2 linked regions of the Homo sapiens genome follow. The protein of the gene in region 1 purifies or fractionates together with the protein of each later gene. This does not show direct contact. Each region holds a gene or a part of one and is shown on either strand. Other genes may lie near its edges. The genes, in order: NIPBL and SMC1A.

The links.
Region 2: the proteins of NIPBL (region 1) and SMC1A purify together in Homo sapiens (affinity purification with mass spectrometry; 3 studies listed by BioGRID and IntAct, with this or other methods). This does not show direct contact.

What each region holds. Positions count from the first base shown.
Region 1 is NC_000005.10:36,976,223-36,992,907, forward strand, and holds part of NIPBL (nipped-B-like protein), read left to right. Parts: coding exon 1-180; intron 181-8,453; coding exon 8,454-10,079; intron 10,080-16,685. UniProt on the Homo sapiens protein: Plays an important role in the loading of the cohesin complex on to DNA. Forms a heterodimeric complex (also known as cohesin loading complex) with MAU2/SCC4 which mediates the loading of the cohesin complex onto chromatin.
Region 2 is NC_000023.11:53,405,655-53,412,776, reverse strand, and holds part of SMC1A (structural maintenance of chromosomes protein 1A), read left to right. Parts: intron 1-523; coding exon 524-782; intron 783-875; coding exon 876-1,016; intron 1,017-3,273; coding exon 3,274-3,356; intron 3,357-3,507; coding exon 3,508-3,715; intron 3,716-6,820; coding exon 6,821-7,006; intron 7,007-7,011; exon of another isoform or gene 7,012-7,104; coding exon 7,105-7,122. UniProt on the Homo sapiens protein: Involved in chromosome cohesion during cell cycle and in DNA repair. Central component of cohesin complex. The cohesin complex is required for the cohesion of sister chromatids after DNA replication.

The sequences.
Region 1 (16,685 bases):
AGAACACTTCAGTTGCTGCAAAACAACCCCAGACTTCTGTGGTACAGAATCAACAACAGATATCACAACAGGGACCTATATATGATGAAGTGGAATTGGATGCATTGGCTGAAATTGAGCGAATAGAGAGAGAATCAGCTATTGAAAGGGAGCGCTTCTCAAAAGAAGTTCAAGATAAAGGTAAAATAATCTCATTATTACCACTTCATCATCTGGGCAAATATGTAATTATAGTGTCAAAAATTTTTTTCACATTACTTTTTTCCCGAATATTTTGTATAATTTATGTCTACTCAAGTACATATTTTTATTACTAATACTCATAATGCAGAAGTTAAATTCGTAACAATTTCATTTATTGTCTGAAACAACTATATGAGATTTGGTAATTCTCTACTACAGGTCTGTTACTCATTATGTACTATATGATTTTACTTATTTGTGCTTTTCTGCTAAAATGAACATTAGCATTTCTATATAACATGTATATTTCACAAGTTACATTAATATTGTTGTGCACCTTCAAATTTTTTTCTGCTAAAACAAGGTTAACCACTGTAGAATTATTTTGAACAGGTACACTTAAGAAAAGCTCATGTGTATGCTTATTAGGCAGTTAGATATTTCACTTGGTTTATGATCCTACTGGCTTAATAATGTCAAATTTTTTTAGTAAACAAATCATGGAAAGAGTTAATATTAAATAGCAAACCTTAGAAATTAAGAGTCTTTTGGTGGTAATTACAGTGAAGTGTTCCCTTTTGTCTGACTAGTATGTTAGGATGGAGTTTCAAGACATACCTGGTCTATGAGTTTATGAGCTTTCCTTGCGCTTCATAATCAAACAAAAATAAATTCATAGTAAGTTCTTAGTAATTTGGTATACACTGTATACAAAATTTCTTTCATGTTTTAAGAGACTGATGAATCAGTGATTCAAATTAGCAATATAATTGATGAATTTGATTGCTATATAAATGCATATACACATTTGATCAGACCAAAAGCATGCTTTATGATTTAATTTTATGATTAAAATATTTTAGGTTGATTTTCAGTTCTTATATTTTATTTCTTGGTAATGATAAAACTTCTTGATATTGGGTAGAGCTGATTTTTATATATGATGTGTTCAGTGTTTGACAGGATCATGACAAGATAATTGTGTTTCTATGCTAAGAAACATGCTGAAGATTAGTATTATATTTCCTGTCTGTCATGATGGCTCATTTTAATGTTATTGAAAAAAAATGGACTGTATTTAGTAATTGTTGTACTACAATGTTTGCAACATATGTAAATCAGAAATAGATGCAAATAAAGAGATTGCTAGAAGTCTTCATTTTACTGGCTAGGGAGCTGGGTTTTTTTTTCTTTGTCTTTTTTTTTTTTTAATATAGATTCAGGGGATATATGTACAGGGGTTTGTTACGTGGGTATATTGTGTGGTGGTGAGATTTGGGCTTGTAGTGAACCCGTCACCCAAATAGTGATCATAGTACCCATTAGATAGTTTTTCAACCTTGGCTTCGTCCCTTTTTCCCCCTTTTTGAGTCCCCTGTGTCTGTTGTTTCTAACTTTATGTCCGTGTGTACCCATTGTTGAATTCCCACTTATAAGTGAGAACCTGTAGTGTTTCATTTTCTGTTTCTGCATTATTTCACTTAGGGTAGATAATGGCCTCAAACTGCATCCATGTTGCTGCAGAGGACATGATTTCATTCTTCTTTATGATTGTGTACCACGGTGTATATATACCACATTTTGTTTATCCAGTCCACTCCTGATGGACGCTTAGGTTGATTCTGTAACTTTGCTATTGTAAATAGTGCTGTGATAAACATATGAGTGCAGGTGTCTTTTTTATAAAGTAATTTTTTTCCCTATGGATAGAAACCCAGTAGTGGGATTACTAGGTCAAATGGTAGTTCTATTTTTTGTTCTTTGAGAAATCTCCATACTGTTTTTCATAAGGGTTGAACTAATTTACATTCCCACCAACAGTGTGTAAGTGTTCCCTTTTCTCTGCAGCCTCTGTTATTTTTTGACTTTTTAGTAATAGCCATTCTGACTGGTGTAAGATTGTATCTCATTGTGGTTTAATTTGCATTTCTCTGATGATTAATGATATTGAGCATTTTTTAAAATGTTTGTTGGCTGTGTGTACATCTTCTTTTGAGAAGTGTCTGTTCATGTCTTTTGCCCACTTTTTAGTGGGTTGTTTTTTTCTTGTTGATTTGAGTTCTTTATAGATTCTCAGTATTAGACCTTTGTTGGATGCATAGTTTGTAAATACTTTCTCTCATTCTCTAGGTTGTCTGTTTACTCTGCTATGGTTTCTTTTGCTGTACAGAAACTCTTTAGTTTAATTAAGTCCCATTTGTCAATTTTTCTTTGTGTTGTTTTTGCTTTTTAGGTCTTAGTCATAAATTCTTTAATTAGGACAATGTCCCAAAAGAGTTTTTTGCAGGTTTTCTTCTAGGATTTTTATTGTTTGAGGTCTTACAGTTACATATTTAATTCATCTTGAGTTAATTTTTGTATAGGTGAGAGGCAGGAGTCCCGTCTCGTTCTTCTGCTTATGGCTAGCCAGTTTTCCCAGCACCATTTATTGAATAGCGTGTACTTTTTCCATTGTTTATTTTTGTCAACTTTGTTGGAGATCAGTTGTTTTTAGGTATGTGGCTTTATTTCTGGGTTCTCTATCCTGTTCCATTGATCTGTGTGCCTATTTTTATACCAGTACCATGCTGTTTTGCTTACTCTAGTCTTGCAGTGTAGTTTGAAGTTTCCTAATATGATGCCACCAGCTTTATTCTTTTTGCTGAGGATTGCTTTGGCTATTCAGGTTCTTTGTTGGTTTTATATAAATTTTAGGATAGTTTTTCCAGTTCTTTGAAAAATTACGTTGGTAGTTTGATAGGAATAGTGTTGAATCTGTAGATTACTTTGGGCAGTATAGTCAGTTTTAACAATATTGATTCTTCCTATCCATGACCATGGAATGTTTTTGATTTGTTTGTGTTATCTATGATTTATTTTATCAGTGTTTTGTAGTTGTCCTTGTAAAGCTCTTGCAACTCCTTGTTTAAATGTATTCCTAGGTATTTTATTTTGTGTGTGTGGCTATTGTAAATGAGATTGAGTTCTTGATTTGGTTCTCAGCTCGAACGTTATTGGTGTATAGACATGCTACTGATTTTGGTACAATTATTTTGTATCCTAAAGCTTTATTGAAGTTATCAGGTCTATGAATCTTTTGGAGGAATTTTTAGGGTTTTCTAAGTATGGGATCATGTCATCAGTGAACAGAGATAATTTGACTTCCTCTTTTCCTATTTGGATGCCTAATATTCCTTTGTCCTGCCTGATTGCTCTGGGTAGGACTTCTGGAATTTTTTTTTAAACTGGTAAAGTTTTGATATTAAGGGTGAAATGTTGCTTGTACCTCTTCTCTTTAGTTTGCAGTATGAGGTTCAGGAAATAAATATATAGGTTCCAAATTATATCTCTTCCTCTAACCTGTTATAAAAGTATACGCATATCAAATGAAAAAAGTAATATTACTCAGCTTTTCTTATTAACCTGTTCAAAATTCCTGAATCTTAGGATAGCCAGTTTTGCAGGAAACATACAATATCACAATTCCCTGACCAAGAAATATTAGTTGCCCTGATAACTGAATTTTTTGCATGACGTTAAATCTGTATTATGGAAAAATGTGTTCTTGAAAAAGAATGTACTTTTTAAGTGAATTTTAATAGATGTTGATAGTAACAAAAACAGAGGAGGAATGGTGACCTTTTTTTTATGTATCATGTTTGTTGAATCCAAAGTTTCTACTTATAAAAATGGAATTAAAATAAGGGTCATATATAGTTCTAATTGCATATTAGCAAACTTATTTTATACTGCGAACTTTCCTTTGGAAAAATAGAACAAAGTCAACAGATACAACATACTGTTCTTGTAGAAACTTGTATATTTTATTTTCAATTATCTAAATAGTTTTTTCTGTAATCTGTGATGGCATAGTTAACAGATAACTGAAAAGTTGAATGAGCAGAGTTGACATTCAATTTTGGTGAAAATACAGGTATGCGGTGATAACCTGAGGATTAAAGTAGGTTTTGCTGATTTCATATTATTGTTGTCATTTCTAACTTGTTTCCTGAAAGCCACTTTCCTCTTATTTCGTGGATTTATAGTCACGTATCACATAATGATGTTTCATTTCACACCAGACTTTATATACAATGGTGGTCCCATAAAAATATAATATTGTATATTTACTCTACCTTTTTTATGTTTAGATATGTTTTAGATACACAGATGCTTACCATTGTGTTACAGTTGCCTACAGTATTCAGTATAGTAACATGCTGTACAGGTTTATAGCCTGGGAGCAATAAGCTATACCATATAGCCTAGGTACATAGTAGGCTATATCATCTAGGTTTATGTGAATATACTATATGATGTTCACGTAACAGAGACACCTCCTAACAATGCATTTCGCAGAATGTATCCTGTTGTTAAGCAATACATGAAATACATGACCGCATTTGAAAACTTTTGGAACTTAGATGCCACCTAACCCTTTTGATTTGAACTTGGCATATTGCATTCAGTTTCTGCATTGTGTGATGGGATGGTATTTGTTATATAAGAAGTTACCTTGAGATTTTGAGATGATTAAAGGTGTGTATATTGGTCCAAGGGTGTAGGTGAGGTCATAAATAAAAGCAAAATTCTTCTGAAGTGGTGGTTTTAGAGCCCTTAAGAGATGAAATACTTCCTTGAAATTAATTTGTCCCAGTTACCATTATTTTTACTTATTAAAGACTAAATGTTAAAGTGGACATTTAATATATTCAAACATTTGGCACTGAGGACTTTTTTACAACTGTTGTATTACTACTGGTGATATGGAGCAGGCAGGACTATTTGTCTGGCCTACTAGTTGCACTTTAGGATATGAGTTTGTTTGCCAATATATTCGTTTACTGTGAGAGAAATATTCCACTCAATAACCAGAAATCAAAAACACTGTACCTTATAAGTAAGATTAGAAAGTTCAACAAATGTAGAATATTTGTGGAATTCAAGTAAAGGGATAGAATAATCTTAAGAAATGTTTTACCTAGGCTGTGGTAGACCCTATTGTACCCTTGTTCCGCAGAAGAAAGACATTTTTCTAGCCGCTAGGTATTTATGTCCCTTTGTCCTGTTCTCTCTTCTTTGAGCAGTTCTGTATATACGTTGATAAGGCAACTTTGTAACCTAATATTTTATAATATTCCAAAAGGACCCTTTTCTCAATCTTTTTGCTCATACTTTTAGTGTCTCTAATTACATAAATTAATTTTAAAAGGCTATTCATCTTTCTTTGCTTCTGGGATGACCTGTCATTAGATATTAATACCTTTTTCATGTGCTGAAAATTTCTGCTTTCTTTTGTCAAAGAGGGGGTTCCTTTGTTCATCTTTGCCTATTTCATCTTTTCCCAAGGTCCACTTTCCATGTTAGCAAGTATAAGGAATGGCTCAGCTTCACTAATGTTTTTATAATGTTACAATATTCTTGCACTATAGCCCTTGTTAAAAGTCAATGATTACCTACTGTCATTTGGAATAAGAGACCGGGATTTTGGTACAAGGAATAGGACAATTAGCCACTCAGCCTGTATTGTGGTTGAGGGGTGGTGTGTTTTCATTTTACATAATTGGCTACCATGTATACACAATTATTGTGCTTTCTGCTTTAAGTGTTTTCATTTATCACTTGTAGATTTAAGTAAGTGGTATAGTTTGTTTTTCTTGTAAGCGTAATTGAGTTTAGAATTTCTGTAAGGGCTGCATCTTATTTTGAGAATATCAGCATCTGGATGACAAGTGTTGGTTTTGAGATTATGATAATCCTTTTGTATGCATTTTCTTTAGGAATATATGTATTCTGATAGCTAATCTTATGGTTCCCAGTGCTGAAGAGGGCTTACAGGTAATCACTGTCCTAAATACCAAAATGATTCTTCATAGAGATGGCTTTCCATGATTATTAGGTGGTTATGATGTAATGAAGACTCATAACAAAAGTGGGTGGACAAAAGTGACCTGTACAGATTCAGAGCTGCTTTATAAGGAGTAAGTTCATGGTGGAATTGAATCAGACCAAGTGAATCAGAACATACATGCTCTTGACATACCTAAGAATCCTTGTCACAGTAATGAAAATTTTCCAGGTTTTACAGGAGTAAAGTACTTTTCAGTAGTTGAACGATTAAAATTTTGTATTTAACAGCATTTTGTATATACTGAAAAACAATGGTAAGATGTTTCCCAATCTTAATTACTTGTGTGCAAATACTTTCATACATTTTTTATTATAAATAATCATAGGATTCATAGTTTAAATAAAATATATCATTTCTTTGAAATTAACTTACTGTATTTGCTAAATTTTCATTTTAATGTCTTTACGTAAATTGGATTGAGGTTAATAATATATAAACTCTTGAGTATTTTGTAATCCTTTAAAAATCAGCCCTCTAAGCTATGTTAATGTTTTTCTGAAGACTGTGCATAAAAGAGTCAGCCATAGATATCTTAAATCTTCAGATGCCTGAGACCTATGTCGTTGTGTATCTTAAGTATGATTGATTAGTCTACCATTTTAATTATTTTTACAAAGCATATTTCCTCAAAAATATAGAAATCTTAGGTTATATTTTTTGAATTTCTAGAGTCTTATAAAAGTTTAAGGGATAAGCATAAATTGATAAAGCATCTTATTCATGAGATATCAATTGGTTTGCCCTGTGGCAGAACATAAAGATGATTTTTGAATGGCAGAACATTCTAAAAGAGGATTCTATAAACATAAATTTAGTATTCTGATTTCTTTTTTAAGGTATTGATGTAGAAAACTTCCTATAAATTCTTACCATGTTAGTTTTAACTGGTGGAAACAATCTAATGATAATATATTATACTTTAGAATTAAAATGGTAGTGTTTTGCAAATGGAGCATGTGTGGTGATAGATTTGACTGGACAACTGAAGGAGCAGAAGGACTTAGTTTTACAAAATATAACTAACAAATATCTTAAGTAAATTGCGGTTATATTTGATTAGATTTTAAACTGGCAAGAACTGCTACTTCCCACTTTAAAAAGAAAACAGTGGAACTTTGCTATATAGAAGAAGCATTACCATTAGGAAAAAAAAATCACAACTTGGTTCTCTAACAATAAGGAGCCATTTTTCAGTTGTCAGTTTGACTTTTAACCTTGTGATACCATCTTCCTTATATGATATATCACATTAGTGAATATTGCAAGAGAATCTAGAGATTGCCTTGTTAAAATAAATAACAGTGACTTTTAAAACATACTCAAGCAATTCAGCAAATAAACAAAAGGAAGCCAAACCTCAAGGTGCTATAATGTAACCATTCCCAAGACCTAACTGGAGATTTAATTTATAGAAAATGACTAGCTCCCTCTTAAGTCAGAAATGGAATCATACACAGAAATATATAGATGTTAAAAATACCTTCACATTTTATTGTAATGGTGAATTTGTGTTTGTGTGTGTGTTTGTCTTTACATTTCATAATACTGTAAATTATTTCTTTCTGAGACCAGAATGGATCCCAGAACATTATAACTTTATATCGAAGAGTAGGAACTGTTTCCTTCAGTGGAAGTTGCTTAAGACAGGATTCTAATTTATACCTATTGCTCCCTGATTTTAAATTTTCTATACCTATGAAATCTGTTGCTTCCTTATTTTAAATTTACTTCTATCTAACATTGTGGTTAACTTTTAAACTCCTTTCACACTTTTAACACTTCAAAGAATTTGAATTATTGATTAAAGTTAAATGACAAATTATTAAATTCTTTTTTTAAATTCATTTTTTCCCAATGGCATGGTATATATTTTCTTTCTTTTTTTTCCATACTTATCTTAGATACAGTAAAAACTTATATTTCCTGTTTGGTATATTGGCAGATTTGGAGCTCTTTATGGTTTTTGGCTAACAGTTAAAAGTAACCTGAGTGAGACTTTATGATTTGTAACTGGTTGCTTTATTATTAGGAAAAGAATCTGATTTATCCGTGACATCTATGAACATAAATATATGTTTGTATTTGGTACATTATAAGTTCTATTCATTTTATATTCTTACACTTATTTATATCCTTAAAGAGTATGCAGTTAAATTCTTTTTACTATATTTATTGAGATCTCTCAAGCATATTTCTTCAAACCTTACCTTTCAAAGTATTGTGTCATTCATGCTTACTATTTTATGTGTACATATTTGCATTTGCATTTTACTCCATTTTAAAAACATAACCTTAAAAAGATAAACAACGTCCATAGGGTTTTTAATAAGATAAGAATACATGTCTATTACTGATATTGATATTTATCTTTAAATTTCAGATAAGCCTTTGAAAAAAAGAAAACAAGATTCTTACCCACAGGAGGCTGGGGGTGCTACAGGAGGTAATAGACCAGCTTCTCAGGAGACGGGTTCTACGGGAAATGGGTCAAGGCCAGCATTAATGGTTAGCATTGATCTTCATCAGGCAGGAAGAGTGGACTCTCAGGCTTCTATAACTCAGGATTCAGACTCCATAAAAAAGCCTGAAGAAATCAAACAATGTAATGATGCACCTGTTTCTGTTCTTCAGGAAGATATTGTTGGAAGTCTTAAATCTACACCAGAAAACCATCCTGAGACACCTAAAAAAAAGTCTGATCCTGAGCTTTCAAAGAGTGAAATGAAACAAAGTGAAAGTAGATTAGCAGAATCTAAACCAAATGAAAACCGATTGGTGGAGACAAAATCAAGTGAAAATAAGTTAGAAACTAAAGTTGAGACCCAAACAGAAGAACTTAAACAGAATGAGAGCAGAACAACTGAATGCAAACAAAACGAGAGCACCATAGTTGAGCCTAAACAAAATGAAAATAGACTGTCTGACACAAAACCAAATGACAACAAACAAAATAATGGCAGATCAGAAACAACAAAATCAAGGCCTGAAACCCCAAAGCAAAAGGGTGAAAGCCGGCCTGAGACTCCAAAACAAAAGAGTGATGGGCATCCTGAAACCCCAAAACAGAAGGGTGATGGAAGGCCTGAAACTCCAAAGCAAAAAGGTGAGAGCCGCCCTGAAACTCCAAAGCAAAAAAATGAAGGGCGACCTGAAACACCAAAACACAGGCATGACAATAGGAGGGATTCTGGAAAGCCATCTACAGAGAAAAAACCTGAAGTGTCTAAACATAAACAAGATACTAAATCTGACTCACCTCGGTTAAAATCAGAACGAGCTGAAGCCTTAAAGCAGAGACCTGATGGGCGATCTGTTTCTGAGTCACTAAGACGTGACCATGATAATAAACAAAAATCAGATGACAGGGGTGAATCAGAGCGACATCGAGGGGATCAGTCTAGGGTTCGAAGACCAGAAACATTGAGATCCTCTAGTAGAAATGAACATGGCATTAAATCTGATAGTTCAAAAACTGATAAACTAGAACGAAAACACAGGCATGAATCAGGGGACTCAAGGGAAAGACCATCTTCTGGGGAACAAAAATCAAGACCTGACAGTCCTCGTGTTAAACAAGGAGATTCTAATAAATCAAGATCTGATAAACTTGGTTTTAAATCACCAACTAGTAAAGATGACAAAAGGACAGAGGGTAACAAGAGTAAAGTAGACACTAATAAAGCACACCCTGACAATAAGGCAGAATTTCCAAGTTATTTGTTGGGGGGCAGGTCTGGTGCGTTGAAAAATTTTGTCATTCCGAAAATCAAGAGGGATAAAGATGGCAATGTTACTCAGGAGACAAAGAAAATGGAAATGAAAGGAGAGCCGAAAGACAAAGTAGAAAAAATAGGATTAGTTGAAGATCTAAATAAAGGAGCTAAGCCTGTAGTTGTGCTACAAAAACTGTCTTTGGATGATGTTCAGAAACTTATTAAAGATAGAGAGGACAAATCAAGAAGTTCCCTTAAACCTATCAAGAATAAACCATCAAAGTCAAATAAAGGTAAGAATACTTCTACTGATGTCATTTATAATATAATCGATTTTAAGTGTTAAGATTACTAAGTTTTAAAAAGGAAATTTACAAAAATTAGAAAGCTACTACATGAAAATATAACATTTATGTCAAACAACAGGAAATTTTTTTCAGGAGTATAGATAAAAAGTTTCCAGTGAATTTTTTTTTCCCCACAGTTTTTTTCTTCCCACCCACTACTCAAGGTAGTTATGAATGTTACTGCTATTTGGTTACACAGAGATAAGTTATTTTGCTGTTTAGTTATTTCTTATATTTCTGAAATATGCTTAAGTGAATGTTGTATTAAAATAGCTGTCTTTAAAAACTCTCTATTTAAAAATGTCTTACAATACTACATTCTTACAGACCTGTGTCTGAGCCAATTATTGATGAATAATTTGTATAGTTTAGAAAGTTATATAAAAGGTTATTTTTCATTTTGTTGGGGAGATGGTTAGTTAAATATGTTTTATATTTTTAAAACATATCTTTTTGTCCTTGTTTATGCAAAGGTAATAGGGAATGGTACTTACTTTTTAAATTTGGTTAAATTGTAAGTTTGTGGGAGGCGGGGGACTGGTGTTATTTTTGCATGGTTTCTGAATTCTCTGGTTACTTGAGTAAAATTATTTCCAAAGGGAGAAGAATGTCTTAAGTGCCAAAAGATAATGGCCATTTGTGCAGAAGATATACTTCTGTATCCCTTTGTACACAAGTATTTAAAATAACTTTTTTTATTTTTAAATAGAGATGGGGTCTTGCTTTGTTGACCAGGCTGGTTTCGAACTCCTGGCCTCAAGTGATCCTCTCCTCTCAGCCTCCCAAAGTGCTGGGATTACAGGCGTGAGCCACCGTGTCCATACAGTCTAAATATACTGAGGTGTAGTGAAGGCAATAGAACTGAGAGTTTATTTAAGTTTTCCTTCTGTGAAAGAGAATTATTAAGAATTTAGATTTATACTTATATATAACCAAGTATATGAAATCTGGAATTGCATTGGCCAAGAGGGTAACCATTGCCTTTTTTGGCTATTTAAATTTAAGTTAACTAAAATTGGAAGTTCATTTCATTAGTAGTCACATGTGGCTGTTGGCTACCATATTGGACAAAACAGAACATTTGCATCATCACAAAGTTGTATAGCACTGCAGTGTATTAGGAGATACAAAAAGTGTGTGGTTATTGTTTTTCATAACATGCTGTTGTAGCTTGTCTACCAAGAAAGCTCTTTGAAAACATATTATAAAGAACTCTTTATTCAAAGAATGACTTGTGGCTAATCTGTTGTTATTCTTGCTTGGTCTTCGTCAACATTCATTTTTTCACTGTTAATTTATTTCCTTTTGTCTTACAATAATGAAAAAAGATTGCCTTCTGAGTCGCTAATATTTGTGTTCTTTGAGTGAAGCTTTTAAATTTTAAATTATGGCAATTAGACTTACCAAAAGTCAGTTAAGACATCAGCCTTAATTAATAAGTAGGCTTTTTTATTTAACTTGAATGCATCTTTTCAGAGTTACTTGTTAATATAAAAGAGGTTGTAGAATGTGGGGGTTAACACCACAATTGTTTTCTTTTAGGTAAAAATTTTCTTTAAAATTTTTTAGTGAAAGTTTGGGAGTAGCTTATATTTATAAACTAAAGAGTATGGCTATACAATTTTAGAAGAGTCAGGTGAAAGATGGAAAGTGGTACCCTCTTGTTCCTTTGATCTGGACCATCTTTCTCTCCCTCCCCTCTCAGCTTACCCTAGCCTTGCTTTCTAAACTCTGTTCTAACAAAGAGTCTTTTAAAACTCCTTAAAGAACATCCAGAAGTGAATATAGCTTTTAGTTAGTAATTGGTATATTATTTCACCTGGGTTTTTCACATGCAATAATATTGCCTATGAATATGTTTTTAGCACCAAAATGCGTTTCTGATAGTATACTTTTAATGCAGATGTATATACCTGATATGGTCATGTTAGTATGTAAGTAAGCTATCTGGGTGTCTGCCTATTAGAGTGATGTGTGTGTATGTGTACATGTGCATGTTTGTGTATATATACACATATATTAATGTAACTGCAATTACAGTAACAGTCCTTTTCATCAAAAAATACTATGTCAGTGCTTAGATGCATTTCAGGATGCCGTGTAGCTATCTTTTGGATTAATTTATTTATGTCTTAGGATCCATATCTTTTTTTTTTAGTAATGATCCAATTTTGGTTTTGTTTTAGATTTTTGCTACTCAGTTTAAATAGCAGAGTTGGGTAATTGTGGATTTTTTAAAATTGCATGTATATGAAGCACAGTTGTAGATTACTGACCCTTTGTAGTATATACTGGGATTTTCTTTGGAGATTCACAGAAAATCACATTTTGATGTGTTGATGATTTTCTGAGTAAAGGAGTTAGTCTGAATACTGCTGGGATACTTGTATGGTTGGTTCCTAGGGCCAAAATTGAAGAGCCATAAATTTCCATCTTTTAAATATTTTACCTGATGTTCATATAGAAAATATTCATTCTTTAGGATATATTTTAAGCTGATAAATTTTGATTGTGTGATAGAGGTATAGATTTATTACTCCTAATTTAGATTACTTATTTTTGTCTTTTGTATGAGCATGATAAATGTAAAGTGGCATTGTTACATTTGATTTGATTTCTGTGGCACTATATCTGTATCCCTAGTACCTAACAAAATACTTCATACATAATAAATCATATTTAATGCCTATTGAATGGAGATGATGTTGCCACCATTTTCAGGAAAAGCTTTTGTGTACAGATTAAAATTAGATAATCGTCTTTTATGTTCCCATCAATACACCCTAGCTCAAGAGCTACTTATTTTTCAAATCCTGCTTCCTAAACATTGTTAATAACTCTTCACCCTGTCAACTACCTAGTTTTTTTGTTAAGATCCAAAGAAAACCTGCTTATAGTAATATGTGTTTAATTTTTCTGTCACACTTATTTTGATCTATACTGGGATTAATATTATTCCCATTCTTATCCTGCATTGTTAACTTCCCTATCTTTCCATCACCATGTTTATTCCTTGCCTGGGAGGGGTGGAGGGGGCAGTCAGGCAGTGTAACTGTTTGTAGAATTCTTTTTAAGTTCTTCAAATATCTTCTACTAAAATATACTTCAATCAGTATGTTACATGCCAAAAAATATGTTGTTAAAAATTTTATTAGACTATTACCCTAATGTATAGTGTCTCTAAATTAAAATAATAAAGTTATGAGATCCTTTAAGATTGGCATAATCTCCCAGCATTTTGGGAGGCCAAGGTGGGTGGATCATTTGAGGTCAAGAGTTAGAGACCAGCCTGGCCAACATGGTGAAACCCCACCTCTACTAAAAATACAAAAATTAGTTAGGCACTGTGGCAGGCACTTGGTAGCCCCAGCTACTCAGGAGGCTGAAGCAGGAGAATCGCTTGAACCCAGGAGGAGGAGATTACAGTGAGCTGAGATTGTGCCACTGCACTCCAGCCTGGGTGACAGAGCGAGACTCTGTCTCCAAAAAAAAAAAAAAAAAAAAAAAATTGGCATAATCATCAACTAACACATGCCTTCAGTGTTATTAACAGCTTATTATCAGTAATTACAAACATATTTGATTTTGTTGTTTTTTTTTTTAACTCCAGAGTGTCTCAAAATATCTTTGCTTTATGTCTAAGGAAACCATTTTTTCTTCTCTCTCCCCCTACTTCTTTCCAACTAGTATATCATTCTCCATTGTGTGGACTCAGTGCTTTCAAGAAATATCCGTATTATTTGTTATTTGACATCATCCTTTAAACTGAAGAGTAAAGCAGTTTCTGAAAGTAGTCTTCACTGGGAATGTATCTAGCAGCTTTAATAGTCAATAGCGATTAGCCTATATTGCTCACTTGATGAGCTAATGATTGCAGGCCTTACTAGCGACAGTGATCGCACTTCAGTTATCTACTGTTACAGTTACACTACTAAATGCTGATAACTATCATCAGCTGGTTGCCTTTTACTTAGCACTGAACCAGTCTAGTTAGATGGTGTTTAGGATCCTCAGCTTCTGCAAGTCTGAAAGTATTGTTTCTGAGAGTGAATTTATAGCACAGTTTATTAATTCCTAAATGAGGAATTTTCGGTGTTTTCTTTAAAGTAGATTGTAATATTGAATAATATTTAATGATGCAGTGGAAATTTATTTTGTTTCATTTGTACAGTTTTATAAAATACCTTTCTTAAAAACTCAAATTTTCAGTTTCTGTAAAGATTGATATCAGTGATATCTTTAGGAAATGTTTGGAGAAAGTTTATTACAGAAGTTGGCATAATCTGTATCTAGCTCTTGTGACTTTAGAGCAGTATTTTGAAAATTTGTACTCATGATTTCCATTTGTAGAAATTTTCCAAAGTATGCTTAATAGATTGTTCATACAAATATTGCTTAAAAGAAATGCATTAAGTAGAAACCTTTTTATAAAAACTAAAGTTTGCTGGAGGTATTCTCTCTCCTTTCCATTCTGTCTCTTAAGCCAGCCCAAAGACATAGTTTCTATAGGGTTCTTGTGTCTGTAGAAATAGGTATATGATTTAACAGCTAAGGAGCTAGCAAATATTAATTCTGTAAGACCCTGTGCCTATTTATGAAGAAATAATCTTTGACATGCTAAATTCCCTTTTATATTCTAAAAAAAAAAAATTTAATGAAACCCTTCTTTACAAGGGCCTGATGTGAAATTAAGAGTATGAATACCTACTAGTATTACACCACCAATAAAATGGGTTTTTTAATATGGATCTCTCTGTCTTGCCTATAAAAATATTAGCGTTTTCTGGCTGTAATGTATCAATTTTTAAAAATTCTCTTTTAAACTTATTACAAATTATAGTACAAAGAGAACTAATATCAAAACCCTGAATAAGCCTTAACCTTTCAAAGCTTGGTTCATTCGCTTTTAAAATAAAGAAACCAATTTCCCTCCTACTTTATACAGTTATAAAGACAAAAATGAATGTTGTTATAGTAAAAGCTAAAGTATGTCTGATTTTTTTATATAAAGGAAAGTACAGTCATTCAATTTCTAATTGAATTGAATTTATCTAATGAAGAAAGTAATTTTTTAAAATAAATCTTTTTATGTATCTGTACTTTATATTCAGTGTAGATTTAAAGATATTACTGCCACAATTTATTTTTCTCACCGTGTATACATATCAAGGAAAGAATCATTTGATCCCTGCCCCCTACTTTTCTGTAATGAGTAGTAAGTTGTTACTTACATAATGAGTAGTAAATTGTCATTTACATGCAGTATTGAAAATTTTTTTTTGCCCCCACTTACCTCTAATTGAAGTTGAAGATCCATTTGGTGCTTCTGTGTTATATGGGTAGGTTAGTGGAAGAATTGTCACTGAACTATTCCATTATGCCTGCCCAAGTTTTTTTTTTTTTTTTTTTAGGATTTATAAAATTTGGAGGTTTATGTGAGGCTCTTAGTTTTGTTTCTGAACGTGACTTGTTTCCATTGACCAAAGCTTCACTTCAGTCCCAAAGATTTTATTAGTTTACGTGATTTATTTCTATCTCAGAGTTGTTTTCCTGTTTTAAAAAGAAAACAGAACACATTGTTAGTTATCAAATCAATGATTCTTTTAAGTTTTTTGATGATTTCTGGTTTTAATAATCTGGCAAGTGCTAATTTGAGTGATTTATAATGGAAATCAAAGATTGCTTAAATGTAGCATATCTAGGAGTAAATGTATTCTTTAGCCATATTAAAGCCAGAGTATAGAGTGCACTGTATCTAATGGAATATATGTACAGAAGCTGAAAATTTGATATCTCACAAAATTGTGACTAAATGACATTATTCATCAAGCCAGTAACATAAAGTTTTATGGGAATTCAGACATGCTGATTTAAAGAATAAAGTAGTTAGGACAAAAGAAATTAGGTGAGAGATAATCATAAAGCACTAGTAATCTGAAGTTTTAGGAACAAATAACTTGGCAAGCAACAATAATCCCTAAAATCATCAATCCCTAAAATACATCATCATATACTAAGAGATAGCAAGACTTTATGTTTGCATTTAATGGATTATTAACTAATTCAGGGGAAATAACATAACCAATTATGTCATACAGATAATTTTAAGTACTTGCTGTTTATTCATTTCTGTTAAACTGAGTTAGTTATCCAGATCAGGATCCTTTTGTTTTTTTAAAGACAGGGTCTCATTCTCTTACCCAGGCTGAAGTACGGTGGTGCTAATATAGCTCACTGCAACCTGGAACTCCTGAGCTGAAATGATCCTCCCATCTCAGCCTCCAAATGGCTGAGTTATCCAGATCCTTGATGTCATATTGAAGATCTCAGGCCTGAATATGGGAAAGTCATGCATTTTATTTATTTATTTATTTATTTATTTATTTATTTATTTATTTATTTATTGAGATGGAGTCTCGCTGTGTTGCCCAGGCTGGAGTGCAGTGGCGTGATCTTGGCTCACTGCAGACTCCGCCTTCCGGGCTCATGCCATTCTCCTGCCTCAGCCTCCCGAGTAGCTGGGACTACAGGCACCCGCCACCATGCCTGGCT
Region 2 (7,122 bases), on another chromosome or scaffold:
TTGTAAGAACCAGGCACATTTCTTGACTTGCAGTTTAGACAAATAGAATATTTAAGCACTCAGGCCCTGGGTAGACAGGTGCTCAGATGAGGGAGAACTCAAAAGGGGTGGTGGCCTTGCCAAGAAAGAGGAACCAATGTGAGGCCGAGCCAATGGAGTGGCTGAGAAGGCCTTCCTAGAAGAGGAAACTGAAGCTAGAAGTTTAAAGGATAGGAATTTGAGGGGCCAACTAAGTAAATACAGGATGTTCTTGGGAGTTGTTAATGAGCTTCCTGGCCAGGGTTGAGGCAGAGTTGGTAGCTTTGCCTTATGGAGTGGCTGGAATGCCAGGCTGAAGTCATACCTTTCAGGGAGTAGTCAGACTGCCCCTTTTTTTCAGGATCTGTGGGGCATTACGCCCATGTTCTTTTAAGTAATTCCCTGAGGTTGGCTCAGGGGCTCAAGCTCTCCTTTGGGTGAAAAGCCTGGGAACCCTCCCTTCTTCCATAGTTCTCACTGGTTTCCCCCACCCCTCTGGCAAAAGGGAGAAGGACTCAGAATTGAACCAGAAGCGGCCTCAGTACATCAAAGCCAAGGAGAACACCTCCCACAAAATCAAGAAGCTGGAAGCAGCCAAGAAGTCTCTGCAGAATGCTCAGAAGCACTACAAGAAGCGTAAAGGTGACATGGATGAGCTGGAGAAGGAGATGCTGTCAGTGGAGAAGGCTCGGCAGGAGTTTGAAGAACGGATGGAAGAAGAGAGTCAGAGTCAGGGCAGAGATTTGACGTTGGAGGAGAATCAGGTAAGCTCTGGAAGGGGTTGGCAGGGAGGAGATCCCTGGGCTGACATCTGCTGACTTGGTCATCCCTGTTCTCCTTCCCTGTCCCTAACACAGGTGAAGAAATACCACCGGTTGAAAGAAGAAGCCAGCAAGAGAGCAGCTACCCTGGCCCAGGAGCTGGAGAAATTCAATCGAGACCAGAAAGCTGACCAGGACCGTCTGGATCTGGAAGAACGGAAGAAAGTAGAGACAGAGGTGGGCTATAGTTATAAGATTAGGGATGATGGTCCACAGAAAAGGATATATATAGGTTGAGCATCCCAAATCCAAAATAATCCAAAATCTGAAACGTTTCCGGTCCTAAGCATTTTGGATTAGAGTTACCCAACCTGTAATGATAGTCTTTTTTTTTGTTTTTTTGTTTTTTTGAGACAGAGTTTCGCTCTTGCCCAGGCTGGAGTGCAGTGATGTGATCTCAGCTCACCACAACCTTTGCCTCCCGGGTTCAAGCAATTCTCCTGCCTCAGCCTCCTGAGTAGCTGGGACTACAGGCGTGCGCCACCATGTCCAACTAATTTTTGTATTTTTAGTAGAGACAGGGTTTCACTACGTTGGCCAGGCTGGTCTCGAGCTCCTGACCTTGTGATCCACCCACTTCGGCCTCCCAAAGTGCTGGGATTACAGGCTTGAGCCACTGCGCCTGGCCATGATAATCTTAATGATAATGACAATGATAATGACAGTAGCTCACATCTGTTGAGCACTTACTGTATGATAGGCAATGTTCTTTACATGTATCCACTCATTTAATTCTTCATTTATTATTATCTTTATGGAATGGCTACTATTACCCTATTTTATGAATGAGGAAATTACAACACAGAGTAATTTGCCTAAGGTCACAAGATTATTGTTATTTTTGAGACAGAGTCTTTCTCTGTCATGCAGGCTGAGGTGCAGTGGTGCGACCATGGCTCACTGCAGCTTCGACTTCCCAGGCTTAAGCAATCTTCCAACCAGAGCCTCCTGAGTATCCAGCATTACTTGTGCTTGCCACCATGCCTGGCTACTTTTTTTTTTTTTTTTTTTGAGACAAAGCCTCACTCTGTTGCCCAGGCTGGAGTGCAGTGGCATGATCTCAGCTCACTGCAACCTCTGCCTGTCGGGTTCAAGTGATTCTTTTTATTTTTTTATTTTTATTTTTATTGTTTTTTGAGACGCAGTTTCTCTCTTGTTGCCCAGGCTGGAGTGCAATGGTGCCATCTCGGCTCACTACAACCTCTGTCTCCCAAGTTCAAGCAATTCTCCTGCCTCAGCCTCCCCAAGTAGCTGAGATTACAGGCACCAGCCACCATTCCCGGCTAATTTTTGTATTTTTAGTGGAGACGGGGTTTCACCTTGTTGGTCAGGCTGGTCTCGAACTCCTGACCTCAGGTGATCCACCCGCCTTGGCCTCCTAAAGTGCTGGGATTACAGGTGTGAGCCAACGCACCCAGCCCGGTTCCAGTGATTCTTGTGTCTCAGCCACCCGTGTAGGTGGGATGACAGGTGGGTGCCACCACACCTGGCTAAATTTTTTGTAGTTTTAGTAGAGATGGGATTTCACCATGTTGACCAGGCTGGTCTTGAACTTCCGAACTCAAGTGATCCGCCCGCCTCGGCCTCCTAATTTTTTAATTTTTATAGAGTCAGGGTTTCTGCTTGTTGCCCAGGCTGGTCTTAAACTCCTGCCTGCCTCTGCGATCAGCCTGCCTTGGCCTCCCAAAGTGTTGGGATTACAGGCGCGAGCCACCGTGCCCGGCCACTCACATAACTATTAAGTATCAGAACCAGACCCTGGGCATTGTAGCTCTAAAGCCCACACTCTTACCAAATATACTTTACTTACTGCCTCCCTGATATCAATATTGTAATAACAGCAATGATAGAAAGTTGTCATAGTGTCCCAGGAGTGTACAGTGTTCAGGCATTCTGCTAAGCACTTTTAAATATTTAAAAGAATGTTGGCCAGGCGTGGTGGATCACTTGAGGCCAGGAGTTTGAGATCAGCCTGAGCAACACAGTGAGACCCTGTCTCAAATTTTAAAAAATAATAAAAATTTTTTAAAAATAATGTGATAGTCATTAATATTAATAACAACCCTATATTAAGCACTTAATGTGTATTCTATGCAGTGGAGATTACCCACATTTTGCAGATGAGGAAACAGGTACAGAAAGGCCTGTGAAGCTTTATCTTGATTTGAGCCTCCATGGTTGGTGAAGAAGATGCCTTGGCTGGGTAGAACACCTATGAGAGGTTCTGGAGCTCTGGGAGGCCCCCATCATTAGTTAGTAGATCAAACCGAACACCATCTATGTCTGCTTTTTAGTAGGCCTCCTATATTAGTGACAGATTGTCCTGGACTGTTCGGCTCTTGGATGAGTGGGCACATAAAGGGTGTGATCTAGAGCCCCCATGGTCTTGGCGTAAACTCGTGCAGCCCCTGATGATGGAATGTTTGTTTCCCAGGCCAAGATCAAGCAAAAGCTGCGGGAAATTGAAGAGAATCAGAAGCGGATTGAGAAACTGGAGGAATACATCACCACTAGCAAGTATGTAGCTCTGCATCTGTCCCCCTTACTTCCAGGCCTGTTCTTGTGACCCTACCTACATGCCCCTCTTCATGCAGGACCCCCAGAGCTCTCTGAGCCAGGAGTATTTTCTCACCAGCAGGAGTAACTCCTGTGTGCCCTCACTTTGTAGGCAGTCCCTAGAAGAGCAGAAGAAGCTAGAGGGGGAGCTGACAGAGGAGGTGGAGATGGCCAAGCGGCGTATTGATGAAATCAATAAGGAGCTGAACCAGGTGATGGAGCAGCTAGGGGATGCCCGCATCGACCGCCAGGAGAGCAGCCGCCAGCAGCGAAAGGCAGAGATAATGGAAAGCATCAAGCGCCTTTACCCTGGCTCTGTGGTAAGAGCAGAGAGGGAACTCATTTCCTGAGCACTTACACTCACTGTCACACGATTTTCCCAGCAGCCCTGTAAGGACAGGGTTGCCAATCCCATTTTTATTGTTGGGGGAAATGAGGCTCGGAGAGGTTTAAAAAAGCACCGCTTCTAAGAGGAAGAACTGCAGTTCAAACCCAACTTGTTCTCCTGAGCTCATGTTCTTTTTTTTTTTTTTTTTTTTTTATTTTTCAACCTGTCATACTAGGCAATCATGTTCTTTTCATCATACCAATTGCGTCTTTCTGAAGGTTTTGTCTTGCTATGTCTATGCCTCTGGGAGGGGAATTGGAAAACCAGGAAAGATTTTGGAAGCAGGTGGGGCCATGGGGCTGGAATTACTCTCCCAGGAAGTAGCTCTGTGCAGTCTTATAAAGGGGCTCCCTTGGCATGTATTAACTGGTCCAGTAGCTTTTAGGGACACCCTGAGCTTTATCAGATCTCTTGATCTTTTGGCCTCTTTCACCAAATCCTGAGTTCCCAGGTTCCCTGAATATTATCCCATACCTGGGTTCAACTTAGTTTGGTTCCACTAATATTTCCCTATCACTTCTCTAGACACTGCTGGGGAGATAAGTATGGTTAGAGTCAGTCCCTGCCCCCTTAATCTGATAGTTCTTAGGGAACCAGGCTTGGTTTTGGAGGCTGCAGGAAGGGAACTGGTAGAAGAGATTGATTGATTGATTGATTGATTTTGAGATGGAGTCTCGCTCTGTCGCCCAGGCTGGAGTGCAGTGGCACAACCTCGGCTCACTGCAATCTCTGCCTCCTAGGCTCAAGTGATTCTCCTGCCTCAGCCTCCCAAGTAGCTGAGATTACAGGTGCTCGCCGCCATGCCCAACTAATTTTTTTGTATTTTTAGTAGAGACGGGGTTTCACCATGTTGGCCAGGCTGGTTTTAAACTCCTGACCTCAAGTGATCTGCCCGCCTCGGCCTCCCAAAGTGGTAGGGTTACAGGCGTGAGTCACCACGCCCAGCCAGATTTATTTTGCTAAGTGCTTGTGAGAATTTGAAATAATATATATAAGATACTTGGCATAGTGCCTGGGTGGTGGTGGTCTGTAAAATGGTAGATGTGAGGTTTAGAAAGATGATTCTGGATTCAGACACGACTGCCTGAAGTCATTGCTTGGGAACCAGAATAGGCTTTTCCTTGATAGCATGGGGGCTGTGTTCTTCTGTGAGATAGGAAAAAACCAAAGTGTTTTTTCTACTCTCACAACCAGCACAACACTTCACTTCTGACACCAGAAGTGTGGGGGTTTTTCCTCACACACCAAGCAATTCTCCAGCAGACACCAGCTGGGTGACCTATAATTCACTTCAGCTCTGACACTATTTATCTGGAGATAGCATCAGATCCTGTGGGTTAGGGGCTCAGTCCAAGACTTCAGGTGCCAATTGCAAGTCTCAGGTTGTGACTTGTGGTTCTGACTGACCTGCTATAAATTACAGTTCCCGAGAATCCCTCCCTGGGTTCGATTAATTTACTAGTGCAGCTCACAGAACTCAGGAAAATGTTTTACTTATGTTTACCCATTTATTATGAAGGATATTACAAAGGATACAGAGAACAGCCAGATGGATGCATAAGGCAAGGTATGGGAGAAGAGATGTGAAGCTTCCATGCCCAATCTGGGCAAGCCACCCTCCAGGTACCCCCACACAGGGGCTTCATTATGTAGTCATGATTGATCAGATCATCAGCCATCGGTGATCAGTTCAACCTTCAGCCCCTCTCCCCTCCTGAAGGTTGTAGGGGTGGAGCTAAGAGTCCCAAATCTAATCCTGCCTTGGTCTTTCTGGTAACCAGCCCCTATCCAGAAGCTATCTATGGGCCTCCAGCCATAATCATCTCATTAACATACAAAAGACACTGCTCATTCCTGAGATTCTAAGGGTTTTAGGAGTTGTGTGTCAGGAACTCACGGGTAGAAGACTAAATATATATTTCATAAAACCACAGTCCACTTTGATCTTCAAACACAGATCCCTTACATCAGAACAATCATGTAATAAATAGAAAGATGCTGGGAGCGGTAGCTCACGCCTGTAATCCTCGCACTTTGGGAGGCCGAGGCGGGCAGATCATCGGAGGTCAGGGGTTTGAGATCAGCCTGGCCAACATGGTGAAACCCCGTCTCTACTAAAAATACAAAAATTAGCCGGGCATGGTGGCGGGCACCTGTAATCCCAGCTACTCGGGAGGCTAAGGCAGGAGAATCACTTGAACCTGGGAGGTGGAGGTTGCAGTGAGCCAAGATTGCGCCACTGCACTTCAGCGTGGGCAACAGAGTGAGACTCCGTCTCCAAAAAAGAGTAGAAAGATACTGGCACATTACTAGAATCCCACTGAGTCATTAATTAATAATTAGTCTAGTCCATGATCATGTCATGTAAAAATGTCTCCTAGGGTGAGGCCATTCAGGTTTGCAGGCTTCTATTCAATCTTGTTAGGTTCCAAAACCAGGAGTGTTCTCGGCAAACATAGCTTCATACTTTCAGGCATCTGGGATAATTGTGCTAAGAGACAATATCATCTCTTGCTCTGAACCTCTTTTGAGGTGTTAATGTAATACTGAGTTTCCCTCATTACATAACTCATTTATTCATTTCTTTACCTCCCTTCTCTTACCCAAACTTTTCCACCTTTCAAAGGGACGTTAGGATTGGCCACTGTGCTGATCTGGAGTGCACACAGCAAGCTAGTCTGCAATTGCCTCCTCCTCAGTCCATACAGTCTCATTCAGATAGGGTAGGGTTGCATGGGTACAGAACTAGTGGGCTGTCTTTTTTGTTTGTTTTGAGACAGGGTCTCATTATGTTGCCCAGGCTGGTCTTGAACTCCTGGGCTTAAGCTGTCCTCCCATTGCAACCTCCCAAGTAGCTAGGATTACAAACACACACTACCATGCTTGGTATTGGGTTATCTTAACCACTAGGCAATACAGTTGCATTCACTTCCTGATATAGATTCTAGTCTGTCCCCCTTTCCATACTGGGAATTAGGATTCCTGAGCCAGCTTCCAAAAGCTTCATACTTCAGTTTTCCCTTCCTACTTTACTCAGTACGGCCGCCTCATTGACCTATGCCAGCCCACACAAAAGAAGTATCAGATTGCTGTAACCAAGGTTTTGGGCAAGAACATGGATGCCATTATTGTGGACTCGGAGAAGACAGGCCGGGACTGTATTCAGTATATCAAGGAGCAGCGTGGGGAGCCTGAGACCTTCTTGCCTCTTGACTACCTGGAGGTGAGGCTTGTTGGGGATTGGGTCAGGCCAGTGTTCAAGGGCCCCTCCTCTAGTACTCCCTGTTTGTGTTCTGCCACTGACTGAGCTTCTCCCCACAGGTGAAGCCTACAGATGAG